3 linked regions of the Homo sapiens genome follow. The protein of the gene in region 1 purifies or fractionates together with the protein of each later gene. This does not show direct contact. Each region holds a gene or a part of one and is shown on either strand. Other genes may lie near its edges.

Region 1 (3,649 bases):
AATGGACATTTGATTCTTATAATGTGGTAGCTCTGGAGATCAGATTCTCCTTCTTTCCCAGGGCTTGCTTTATTTTATTTATTGCTGTTGGTGTTTCTGTGCTGGGGATCAGCCAAAGGCACAGAGTTAATGTCTTCTCAGGTATTTTTGAGACTGCATTTTTCTCTGAGCATTTATGCAGTGTGGTGACTGTCTAAATATCCCTATATTTATGGTTGCTTTTGAATGTCCTTGTCCTTATATGTATGGTTCCCAAAAGGAGAAAAAGGGAAAAATGAAGGTGTCGGGGATAGGTGCTTACTCTTTAAATCTCCTGGAAGTCACTTTAGTAAGATGTGGAGGTGGTTGCAACAACGGTGGTGGGAGTTGCATTAGTGGCTGCCTGCCTGTGTATCTGTACCACCAATATCAGAAGTAATGATCAATTATCAGAACTCAGATCCTTGATATTTGAACTTATTTATTTATTTATTAGAGACAGGGTCTGGCTCTCTTGCTGAGGCTGAAGTGCAGTGGTGCAATCATAGGTCACTGCAGCAGCAAACTTCCAGGCTCAAATGATTCTCCTATTTCAGCCTCCTGAGTAGCTAGGACTACAGGCATGTGCCACCACACCCAGCTAACTTTTGTATTTTTTTTTGTAGAGACAGGGTGTCGCTATGTGCCCAGATCGGTCTCCCACTCTTGGGCTCAAGTGACCCTCCTGCTTGCCCTCCCAAAGTTCTGAAATTACAAGTGTAAGCCATCATGCCCAGCTGATATTTGGTGGATGGTGTCCTTGCCTACCTGGCTCCTGCAAGCTGTGTACAAGCTGCTTCTGGAAAGCATACACAGCTGCATGCCTTGAGGCTGGGAGTGGCAAATGGGTAGCTGCTACTGTACTAAAGCTGAGATTGCCTGAAATTAACCACAATTTACTGTCCAAGCCTTATCCTGGAAGCTTCCAGCCCTCAATAGACTCCAGAGTTCCAAAATCGTTACACTAGGGCCGGTGTGGTGGCTCATGCCTGTAATCCCAGCCATTTGGGAGGCCGAGACGGGTGGATCACTTGAGGTCAGGAGTTTGAGACAAGCCTGGCCAACATGGTGAAACCCCATCTCTTTTAAAAATACAAAAATCAGCTGGGAGCGGTGGCACATGCCTGTAATCCTAGCTACTCAGGAGGCTGAGGCACAAGAATCGCTTGAACCCAGGAGGCGGAGGTTGCAGTGAGCAGAGATCGCGCCACTGCACTCCAGCCCAGAAGACTCCATCCATCTCAAAACAAAACAAAACAAAACAAAAACAAAATAGTTATACCAGACAAATTGTTGTCTAGCTGGGGAGAGGGATTCCTGACACTTCCTACTGTGCCATTTTCCCTAATGTCACTCTGAGCCTTTATGTTATAGAAGGGAGCAGACCATGAGGATGCCTGGTGCATGGCTTTGAGGGTGTGCACACTGACATTTATATGTGCACACAAATATGGGCCGTTGTCACAGGCCAGCTTGTTAGACGGTGGCTGTGCCATATTGGGGGTGATAGGAAGGGGTACAATTATGTGTCTGTGCATGTTTGTGTGTGTCAGTGTGTGTTCATGTGAGGTGATAGGTGTTGCTCTGTGTTTGTACCTGCATAAGTGTACTTCTGTTTGCACCTGTGATTATACCTATTCTGTGAACCTTGGAGTATGTTCATCTGGGGGTACACCTAAAACTGTGTTCCGGTGTAACTGTACAGTGCACATACATCTTGAGGGTACCCCTGAGTGTGTGTGTCTGTGCATGTCCTTCTCTATATGTACCTTGTGTGTGACCTCTGAGCATGTACATCTCTGTGTATATTTTGTGTACTTGTGTGCATGTACCTCTGTGTACCTCTAAGCATGTATCTACGTGTATATCTCTGAGTGTCCCACTGAGCACATCCCTTTGAGTGTGTAACTGCATGTGTGTCTCTGAACATGTTCCTCTGTGTGTTCCTCTGATCATGGACCTCTGAACATGTGCCTTTTAGCATGTACCTCTGTGTGTACCTTCGAGAGTGTGAGCTGGATTGAGCCCTTTAGGGGTGTGCATAGCGAACCAAAGCTCACTGACCCTCCTCCACTCCTAGGACTCGTACCTGCTTGACTATTTCCTCTTTCTGAACCGCTACTTCGAGGTGGGGGCCCCGGTGTACTTTGTTACCACCTTGGGCTACAACTTCTCCAGCGAGGCTGGGATGAATGCCATCTGCTCCAGTGCAGGCTGCAACAACTTCTCCTTCACCCAGAAGATCCAGTATGCCACAGAGTTCCCTGAGCAGTGAGTTCCTGGCCCGCCCCAAACCCCAGCCTACTCCCTGTTTGAGTCCCTCCAGTCCTCTCCAGTCCCCTCTTCCTGATGTTCTATCCCTGTCCTGCTGCCCTGCTGCCTTGCTGCCGTATGCCTGGGGAGGGCTGCGTGGGGGTTGGGCCACGAGAAGGACCCACCACCCTGCCCAGCTGGCCTTTTCACCCTTCCTCCCACCTGCCCCTTAGGTCTTACCTGGCCATCCCTGCCTCCTCCTGGGTGGATGACTTCATTGACTGGCTGACCCCGTCCTCCTGCTGCCGCCTTTATATATCTGGCCCCAATAAGGACAAGTTCTGCCCCTCGACCGTCAGTGAGTGTGGGGCCATGGGGACTCACTGTCCACCACAGCTCGGGCAAACTGAGGCAACAGAAAGGAGAGGACTGGAGAGGCTCCCTCAACCTCTCCCACGCATCCTGCAGGGTCTGTCGGGGGCATGGGTGCAGATGTGGCCTGAGGGACAGGCACTCTGTGAGAAGCACCTGTGTGGGTGACCGTGCTGGCCCGTGGGCATCACACATGTATACTGCTGTGTACTGTGCCCCCATTTTCAGAGCACATGGTGCTCCCGGGTGGCAGGGCAGTGGGGAGTCAGGAGGGGAGAGCTGCTGAGGTTAGCACATGGCCCTGCCGCCCAAAGCAGTGGCATTTGTAGGTGGAGAGGCCTTTGTGGGGCCTGTTTTTCTGCCCCAAACTTCCTTTCCCCTTCTGCCTGTAGGTGCCCACAGTTTCTATAGCCAAGAGGAGAACTTCTCCCACAAATGACAAATGCAAATCCCCCTAGAAGCGACTGGTTGAGGCTGGAGTGCCCAGGACCTTTGATGGGATTGTTGGGGAAGGAGGGGCACAAAGCAGGAGCTGCTGGCCCTGGGGTGTCACTGCCCAGACCCCTGCTTTCTCTGCAGACTCTCTGAACTGCCTAAAGAACTGCATGAGCATCACGATGGGCTCTGTGAGGCCCTCGGTGGAGCAGTTCCATAAGTATCTTCCCTGGTTCCTGAACGACCGGCCCAACATCAAATGTCCCAAAGGGTAAGCTTGGGAGGGCCTTCTGCTGGGGAGGACAGACATGTGGGACACAGGATGGGGTTGAATATAGAGAGGCAGGAGGAGGCTATCAGGGGCCTCTCTGGGGTGGCTGTGGGCTGGGCAGATGAAAGAAGCTTCGTCCCTGGCTAAGCCTTTGCCCTGACCTTCTTGCAGCGGCCTGGCAGCATACAGCACCTCTGTGAACTTGACTTCAGATGGCCAGGTTTTAGGTAAGCATGGCCTTGCCTGGAGGGGAGGACATAAATCGGTTGCTCTGGAGGGCCCCCGAAAACCCCAGGGAAC
Region 2 (3,649 bases), on another chromosome or scaffold:
CAAGATTATCAGGATATCATTTGGAAATACATTCTGCTATTGAGAAATAGAGCTTTGCTGCATTATTCAAGATAATGTAAAAATCAAACTCTTTGGTATTATTTTTATTGAGTTTTAAAAAGAAAAAGTAAAAGATGTTTCTCTTCTTACAAAAACCAATAGGCCCCAGTGAAATATCATGGAGACAGATCAAAGGAGAGTTTAGTGAGTTTTGCAATGCAGCATGTTAGAAGTACAGTGACAGAACTTTGGACAGGTAATTTTATTTTCTTAATTTGCTTGATTTTCAGGGTATTTTGAAATCAGTATTTTGTTTTTAATGGCAATATTAACATTTTGGTCATGGTATTGAAATTTTAAAGTGTCTTTTCCATGTTTCTTAGAAGGGAATTGTGTCATTTACTCTGAACTCTGCTGAATTTAACAAACTAGTTAAATTTTTACAGAAACTTGAACTATCGAGATATGGGAAATGGATATGAGATAGGGCTACGGTAAAAAAGGCATCTCTCAAAGTGCAAAAAATGTTTTGTAATACAAGTGTTTTATTGCTTTTTTAAATATGCTTATCAATCAGTAAATTCAAACCTATTCTGTTTAATTTTAAAGTTTAAAAATGCTTCTAATCTTAGGCTTTTAACTCATTAACTGCCTTTAGGCAGATTAAGCTAATAATAGTATTTGTGGCTCAAGATGTTCATTTTATTCATTGAGTAAAGTTACGTGTCAGAAACTATTAAATAGTGGGGCTGCAGTAATAAAATATATAGTCCCTGCCATCAGTGACTTCATTAGTGAGGAAAACATTAGTAAACAATTAAAATGCAATATAGGTACTATTATTATAGAGCTTAAGGGAGCATAAGATGTGTAAAACAACCCAGTTGGGGAAAAGAGAAAGAGTTAGAAAATACTTCTTGAAAGAAGTCATATCCAATCTGTCATGAAAATGAATAGGAAGCCTTAGGAGATCACTGTGTATTTGGGGAACTGGCAATACTTCATGAATCTGACAAAAAGATCAATAATTGGGTCAAGTGGTGTGGGGAAATATAATATAGCTGGCTAAATAGGTAGGCAAAGCTCAAGTCACAGGGGCCTAACTTGCCAATTTGAGTTTTTTTCTTAATGAAATAATGAATTTAGGTTTTATATGATGAAAAAATTGGAGAGCCATTGAAGGAATTTGTCATACTCAAGAGTATCTTTGGAAAGATAACTGGTAAAACTCAGAGTGGATTAGAAGAGGGTGAGATTAGAAAGGAAAAATTACTTAGAAGACTGTTTCCATTAGTAAAGGAGTAATAGGTGATCAGAATTTGCTTTTTTTCTTTTATTTTTAAGGAAATTTTGTCAACTCCATACAAACTGCTTTTGCTGCTGGTATTGGCTGGCTGATCACTTTTTGTTCAAAAGGAGGAGGTAATACTATTTTTTAATTTTGTTGGAATGAGAACATGACATTTAAATTTTTGGTGACAGTTTTAAGTATGCTACTGTAATTGATTATTAAGTACTAGAAACTACAATTTATGCCCAGGATTACAATTTTTTTACTTAATGAATATTCGCCTTTTTCATTATTTTACACATGAGGTTATTATTCATTTTTTAATGTATCCTCTATGTTTTTATGTTCAGTGGACCAGTTTTTCAGCTTAGACTCATGATAAATTGTACCTTCAGATAGCCACAGATGTTATTTGACAATTTGCAAAAATAACTAGTTGTTTACAGCTCTAACCCCTCCCAAAATAATAATTTTTTGGAAATATGGACTTTGCTTCATGCTTATATATATCTCTCAAACATACATAGATTTGCCTCATACAATTATATACTTGAAGATGACAGCTTCTTCTAGGAACCTTTCCTTGAATAAATTAAGTTGAAAATTCAGTACTCTGCATAGCAAGCCGTAAACTGTAAACTGTGTTCAAGCAATGTGGTTGGTTAAAAATTGTTCTAAGACAACAAAATATTATAACTCAATGTATTTGCATGTATTTAATCCCAACATGAGTCTTCTCCCCACATTTCATCTCTCAGCCTTCATGCTGCTATATTGAAAAGGTACTGCCTTGTAACTAAAATCAACCCATTACCCCATCCTGTAAGGCCTATGCTAGAAAGACACTGCCTTGCAGCAAAACGTCAGCCTTAAACTTAACTAATCACCAAGGGATTTTGTCTCATTTTGGCCTATTGCCCAAATTTCTGTTCATCCACACATGAACAAAAGTTCTTACATTCTCTGAGATTCTTTTACTTCTCACCTCAAGTAAATTGCTTCTCCCTGTCTTTGTAGGCTCTGTGATGCTATAGCTCTCTTTCTTCTAAATCTTCTCTCATTGTATTCTAGTGTTCATATTTGCAGAACTTTCATAAAAATAGTGAAGGCACTATTTAAAGATTTTATTGTATTTTGAGGATCCTTTATATACTTCTATCAAATATCTATTACATTTTATTTCCCCCCAATTTTGAGATCTCTTGGATAAAATGGATTGTTGATAGGAGGAGAGATTGAGAGTATTAACCTAAAGAGAGAAAATTACTTTTTCTCTGTAGCTAGACATCCTAGAAATTAAAGGGAGAGAATGAAAGAAAGAGGGAGCGAGGGAGTGTGTGTGTGTTTTTGTGTGTGTGTTTGTATGTGTGTGTGTGTAGAAGGATTTCCATATCTATCAATAGAGTCCAGCTCAATTAATTGCCTTCGAATGAACATGGTAATTTGGGGGAAAGGCAAATGCAAGTATTTTCATCAGGCTTAATAAAGGTAAAACTGCCTCATAAGGTTTTTTTGTCCCCAGATTGTTTGACTTCACAGACACGACTCAGGCTTAGTGGCATGTTGGTAAGCATCAATCATTTTGTAAAACTATATCACCATGTAAAGAAACACATTTAGAAATTGATTTGAAACATTTTCTTCCCTTATTTCTTGAACATTTAACTCACCTATTTGTAATCTTATTTTCTGATGACTGTATTCATAGCTATGTGTTTTTTCCTGAATAATTAGTTACGTTCAATAAATTTTAACGTGGTATCAATTCTAAGTGTCATTTACTTTGTAAGTATTCTGTAATTTATAAGTTCCTCTTCAACTGAAGTTACATGTTAGTGTTTTTGTCATTTCCCAACTTTATCTTTTGTTGTTTTCTTTTTTAGTCATTTTTAAATGTATATAGCTCTCATGTTATGGCTGGGAAGTAGCCTGAGTGATGTTGATTTTTTAACACCATTGAAATACCCTTTGTGGCTTTGTGGCTTGACAAAGCCACACAAATTGTCAGTTTTGAAAATTTTGGAAATTCTTTGTGAGCTTGAATATAATAATGTTATGTTAGGTGTAATATATGTTAGGTGTAGTATTACATTTATTAGATCAGATTTATTAATCATGTTATTTGTTTTTGGACTACATGATCTATAATTTCTAAGAGGGATGTATTAAAATCTCTACCATCCATCATTGATTTATCTATTTCTTATATTTCTGTCAGTTCTTCCTTTACATATTTTGACATTATATTGTTGGCAGCAGTATGATCATTATATCCTTTGGCGGCTATTTATTTCTCTTTGTGCATTATGGATTTGTTTACACAAATTCTGTTTTATTTGATATTAAAATCACTAACTT
Region 3 (3,649 bases), on another chromosome or scaffold:
AGGGGAGAGCCAAGGGCAGAGCCACCTGAGCATTGCCCTTTCCTCTGGGAGCTTGTAATTGACTTCAGAAAAGTGCAAATCATGTCCCATTAACTCAGCTCCGCCTGCAATGCCGAGGCACTTCTAATCCCACACGGAGCCAAGGGGGCCTCCACAGCTCTGCCAGCGGGGAATGGCCACGGCCCATGGGGGCTTCCATTCCTGCCTGGGAGGCCTGAATCCGTTGTCCCCAGGCACCGGTTACTGAGCCACAGGGGGTCTGTGTCTTGACACATGTGCTAAGAAGAAACATAAACACTAAAAAAGAAAAAGAAAACCAAATCTGTGACAAGTGAGAGAACCACCCCAGTCTTTCAGGGTCTGAAGTTACTCTATAGCTCTTCGCTTTTTTTTTTAAAGGAGCCTCCTCAATATTCTTCAATGAAAGGGACAGGTGCAGATGCACTCTGGGCAGAGATGGCCCCAGTAATGCTGTTGGCTGGAAGACGCCCTTGCTCACGCTCTGCTCAGTGAGAAGGGATTCCTCACCGGCTGTCACACTCACCTTGTAGGTGAAGGCCTTCCAGGGCAGATGTGCCACTGACTTCAACTGAAACAGGAGAGACAGGCCCAGGTCAGCTGTGGGCAGCACAGGAGACGGGGGCCGGGCCGCGGGCAGCACACACCGCCTTACCTTGTAGTTCACAAAGAGCTGGGGCAGCATGAAGAGGAAACCAAAGGCATAGACCCCTGCAGAAAGACAGACAGCACTCACGAGGTGCGGAGGGCCGGGCTGCCACATCTACGCACAGACGGCACTCACGAGGTGTGGAGGGCCGAGCTGCCACGTCTATGCATAGTGGGCAGAAAACAAGGTCTGCTATCCAGACAACTTCAGAGTCCATCATGGTGTGAAGCAGCTTTCTGGCTGGTAAGTTTATCAAGAGTCTACGACAACTTTGGAGAGCAAAGCTCTTCTATTTATTAATCAGTGTAACTGCTGCCCACGGGGTCAAGTCAGTGAGAGCACTGGAGCACCCTGGGGCTATGAGGACACGGCCTCCTGACCCACAAGGTCCTGCCCCAGGGGTCAGGTGTGGGACTCCTACCAGGGAGGACGGCAGTGCGGGACCCACCTGCTCTGCACCAGACAGGCCCTCGCCCTTAATGCTCACGGGACCACTTCCCAAAGAGACCACAAAGCTGCGATCAGGGCTGGTCTGGTGGGGCTGGGGGATGGACACAGCAGCCCATGCAGCTGAAGGTGCCACCTGGGGCAGGCGGGCCTCCCAGGACATGTGGCCCCGAGCACAGGGCCCTGCAGGGTCCCCACACTGCATCTGCAGGAGGGGGCGCGCCGTGCACCAGAGCCTGGTGCTTCCATTTGCTCTAAGGAACCAGACGTGGATGGTGTTGTTTTAATGCTTAGGTTTCCTTGTTTCCATGAAGAAAACAGACAACAGTCATGCACCACACAATGCTGTTTTCATCAGCGATGGACACATATACCAGGCGGCTGCACCACACAGCCTGGCGTGGAGGGGCTGCCACATCTGGTGTGAGCACTCCCTGTCGCTTGTACAAGGACCTGTTTCTCAGAACCAGTCACTGTTGTGAAGCCACGCAGGGCTTTATCTGCTCACAGCCTGGGGGGAGCCCTGGGCACCGCACATGTGCCAGAACAGGGTGGGGAGGGATTAGCCTCAAATCACAGGGGGGCTTGCCACACTGGGTTTCAATGCAAGAACAATTAAATCGCTGCCTGCTGGAAACACTAGTACTGAAGCAGGGAAGCACATGGACTCACCGTTGACGAAGCTGTTGATTAACCAGGAGTACCAGCTGAAACGGAAAAAAAAGGAGAAGTCCTATTTCTCGCATAGCTTAATATCTGTATTAAATTGATGAAAAATAATTCTTTCATTAAAAATCCTCTGAAAATACCCAGATGCTCTCACGGCAGCTCGGCAGCCAAGAGCAGCAGTGCTGAGCCTGGTTCTCAAGCTGGAGATAGCGCTGAGCACCCCCGGCCGGGCAGCAGAGGCCGGGCACTCCAGGAACCCCTCAGCTCAGGGCCAGCACCCCACCTGGGCAGCAGAGGCCAGGGGCTCCAGGACCCCTCTCAGCTCAGGGCCAGCACCCTGCCCGGGCAGCAGAGGCCGGGCACTCCAGGAACCCCTCAGCTCAGGGCCAGCACCCCACCTGGGCAGCAGAGGCTGGAGGCTCCGGGATCCCTCTTGGCTCAGGGCCAGCAGCCCACCTGGGCAACAGAGGCTGGGGGCTCCGGGATCCCTCTTGGCTCAGGGCCAGCACCCCACCCGGGCAGCAGAGGCTGGAGGCTCCAGGACCCCTCTCGGCTCAGGGCCAACACCCCACCCAGGCAGCAGAGGCCGGGGGCTCCGGGAACCCTCTCAGCTCAGGGCCAGCACCCCACACGGGCAGCAGAGGCCAGGGGCTCCAGGACCCCTCTCAGCTCAGGCCCAAGCCTCCCATGAAGCCTGGTGGCTGGAGTCAGTCCTCTCAGCTACACCTTACCAGGGGGACACTGAGGCCCAGAGCCCACCGTGTGCAGCTGCAGGGGCAGGACCCCTCCCAGGCGCTGGCCCAAGTGCCCCGGCCCCGAGTTTGCCCTCCAGTCGCACCCCGCTCTGGCTCAGTCATCCAAATGGCTTTCTCAGGGGAAAGACGCAGCAGGGGAAGCGTGTGCGGCCTCCTACCTCTTATATTTGATATTCAGGAGTGAATAGACAGCACCCCCGACACAGAGAGGGTACAGCAGGTATGACAAGTACTTCATGGCCTGCAGGGAACAAAGATGGCTTCCAGTTAGAGGCCCAAACGCCAAGCCTCTGTAAACACACTGCATGGAGCTCACCCCGACAGGGACAGACAGAACGAGCTACAGCGCTCAGGGTGGCAGGGCTGCTCTGCAGGGGGCGGCGTGAGGGGCACAGGCAGGGCATCGCACACTCGCCACAGCCCCAGGAGGCACCGCACACGCCAGAGCCCGGGTGTAACTACAGGCGCTAGTTAACAATAATAGATCAATTCTGGTTGGTCAAAACCAACCAACCCACAACAGATCAATAAACATAATGGAAAGAAACCGGAAAAAACTGCCTACTAAGTAATGTAGTTACATCGCCAGCTGTATCCATTCTGATTTCAGCTTTACAACGCCATGCAAGTTGGATATAAGCTGGTGAAGATTAAACCAAACTAAAATCATCTGTGCAGAAATGTTCTATTAACTGGAACTGAGAATTCCAGCTCCCCCAACAGCAATGGGGAAAGGTGACGCCCTGTGCTGCTGGGGCCATTCCTCCAGGCCACTGTGCGGCCGCGGCCATTATGGCCTTGGTGACGGCAAGTGCGTTCCCAGCAACCACAGCAGACACCATGGCCTGCGTCAGCTGCCTGGCGAATGTGACTTACAAACGATGAAAATATCCCTACTATACGGTGACACAGGCAGGCTGTGCCTGTAAGGACTGGGAAATGAGTCTCTGCGAGCCCCCGCCCTTCCCAGTAAGAAATTTGGGTTTTATGTGTTCACTCTTGGGATCCCTGCTCAAGGCGGGCTGACCCGTACTCCAAGGAGACTTCCGCACTGAGCAATGACAGTAAAAGACCCGTCTTTGAGGGTGTTGGATTTGCCTGGCATGCACGT

What was found.
Region 2: the proteins of NPC1L1 (region 1) and DNAJC10 purify together in Homo sapiens (affinity purification with mass spectrometry; one large-scale study listed by BioGRID and IntAct). This does not show direct contact.
Region 3: the proteins of NPC1L1 (region 1) and CLPTM1L purify together in Homo sapiens (affinity purification with mass spectrometry; one large-scale study listed by BioGRID and IntAct). This does not show direct contact.

The regions. Positions count from the first base shown.
Region 1 is NC_000007.14:44,520,692-44,524,340, reverse strand, and holds part of NPC1L1 (NPC1-like intracellular cholesterol transporter 1 isoform 2 precursor), read left to right. Parts: intron 1-2,098; coding exon 2,099-2,289; intron 2,290-2,504; coding exon 2,505-2,629; intron 2,630-3,222; coding exon 3,223-3,349; intron 3,350-3,520; coding exon 3,521-3,576; intron 3,577-3,649. UniProt on the Homo sapiens protein: Plays a major role in cholesterol homeostasis. Critical for the uptake of cholesterol across the plasma membrane of the intestinal enterocyte. Involved in plant sterol absorption, it transports sitosterol, although at lower rates than cholesterol.
Region 2 is NC_000002.12:182,729,686-182,733,334, forward strand, and holds part of DNAJC10 (dnaJ homolog subfamily C member 10 isoform 1 precursor), read left to right. Parts: intron 1-162; coding exon 163-256; intron 257-1,344; coding exon 1,345-1,422; intron 1,423-2,813; coding exon 2,814-2,857; intron 2,858-3,649. UniProt on the Homo sapiens protein: Endoplasmic reticulum disulfide reductase involved both in the correct folding of proteins and degradation of misfolded proteins.
Region 3 is NC_000005.10:1,321,091-1,324,739, forward strand, and holds part of CLPTM1L (lipid scramblase CLPTM1L), read right to left. Parts: intron 2,780-3,649; coding exon 2,697-2,779; intron 1,822-2,696; coding exon 1,787-1,821; intron 730-1,786; coding exon 674-729; intron 590-673; coding exon 545-589; intron 1-544. UniProt on the Homo sapiens protein: Scramblase that mediates the translocation of glucosaminylphosphatidylinositol (alpha-D-GlcN-(1-6)-(1,2-diacyl-sn-glycero-3-phospho)-1D-myo-inositol, GlcN-PI) across the endoplasmic reticulum (ER) membrane, from the cytosolic leaflet to the luminal leaflet of the ER membrane, where it participates in the biosynthesis of glycosylphosphatidylinositol (GPI).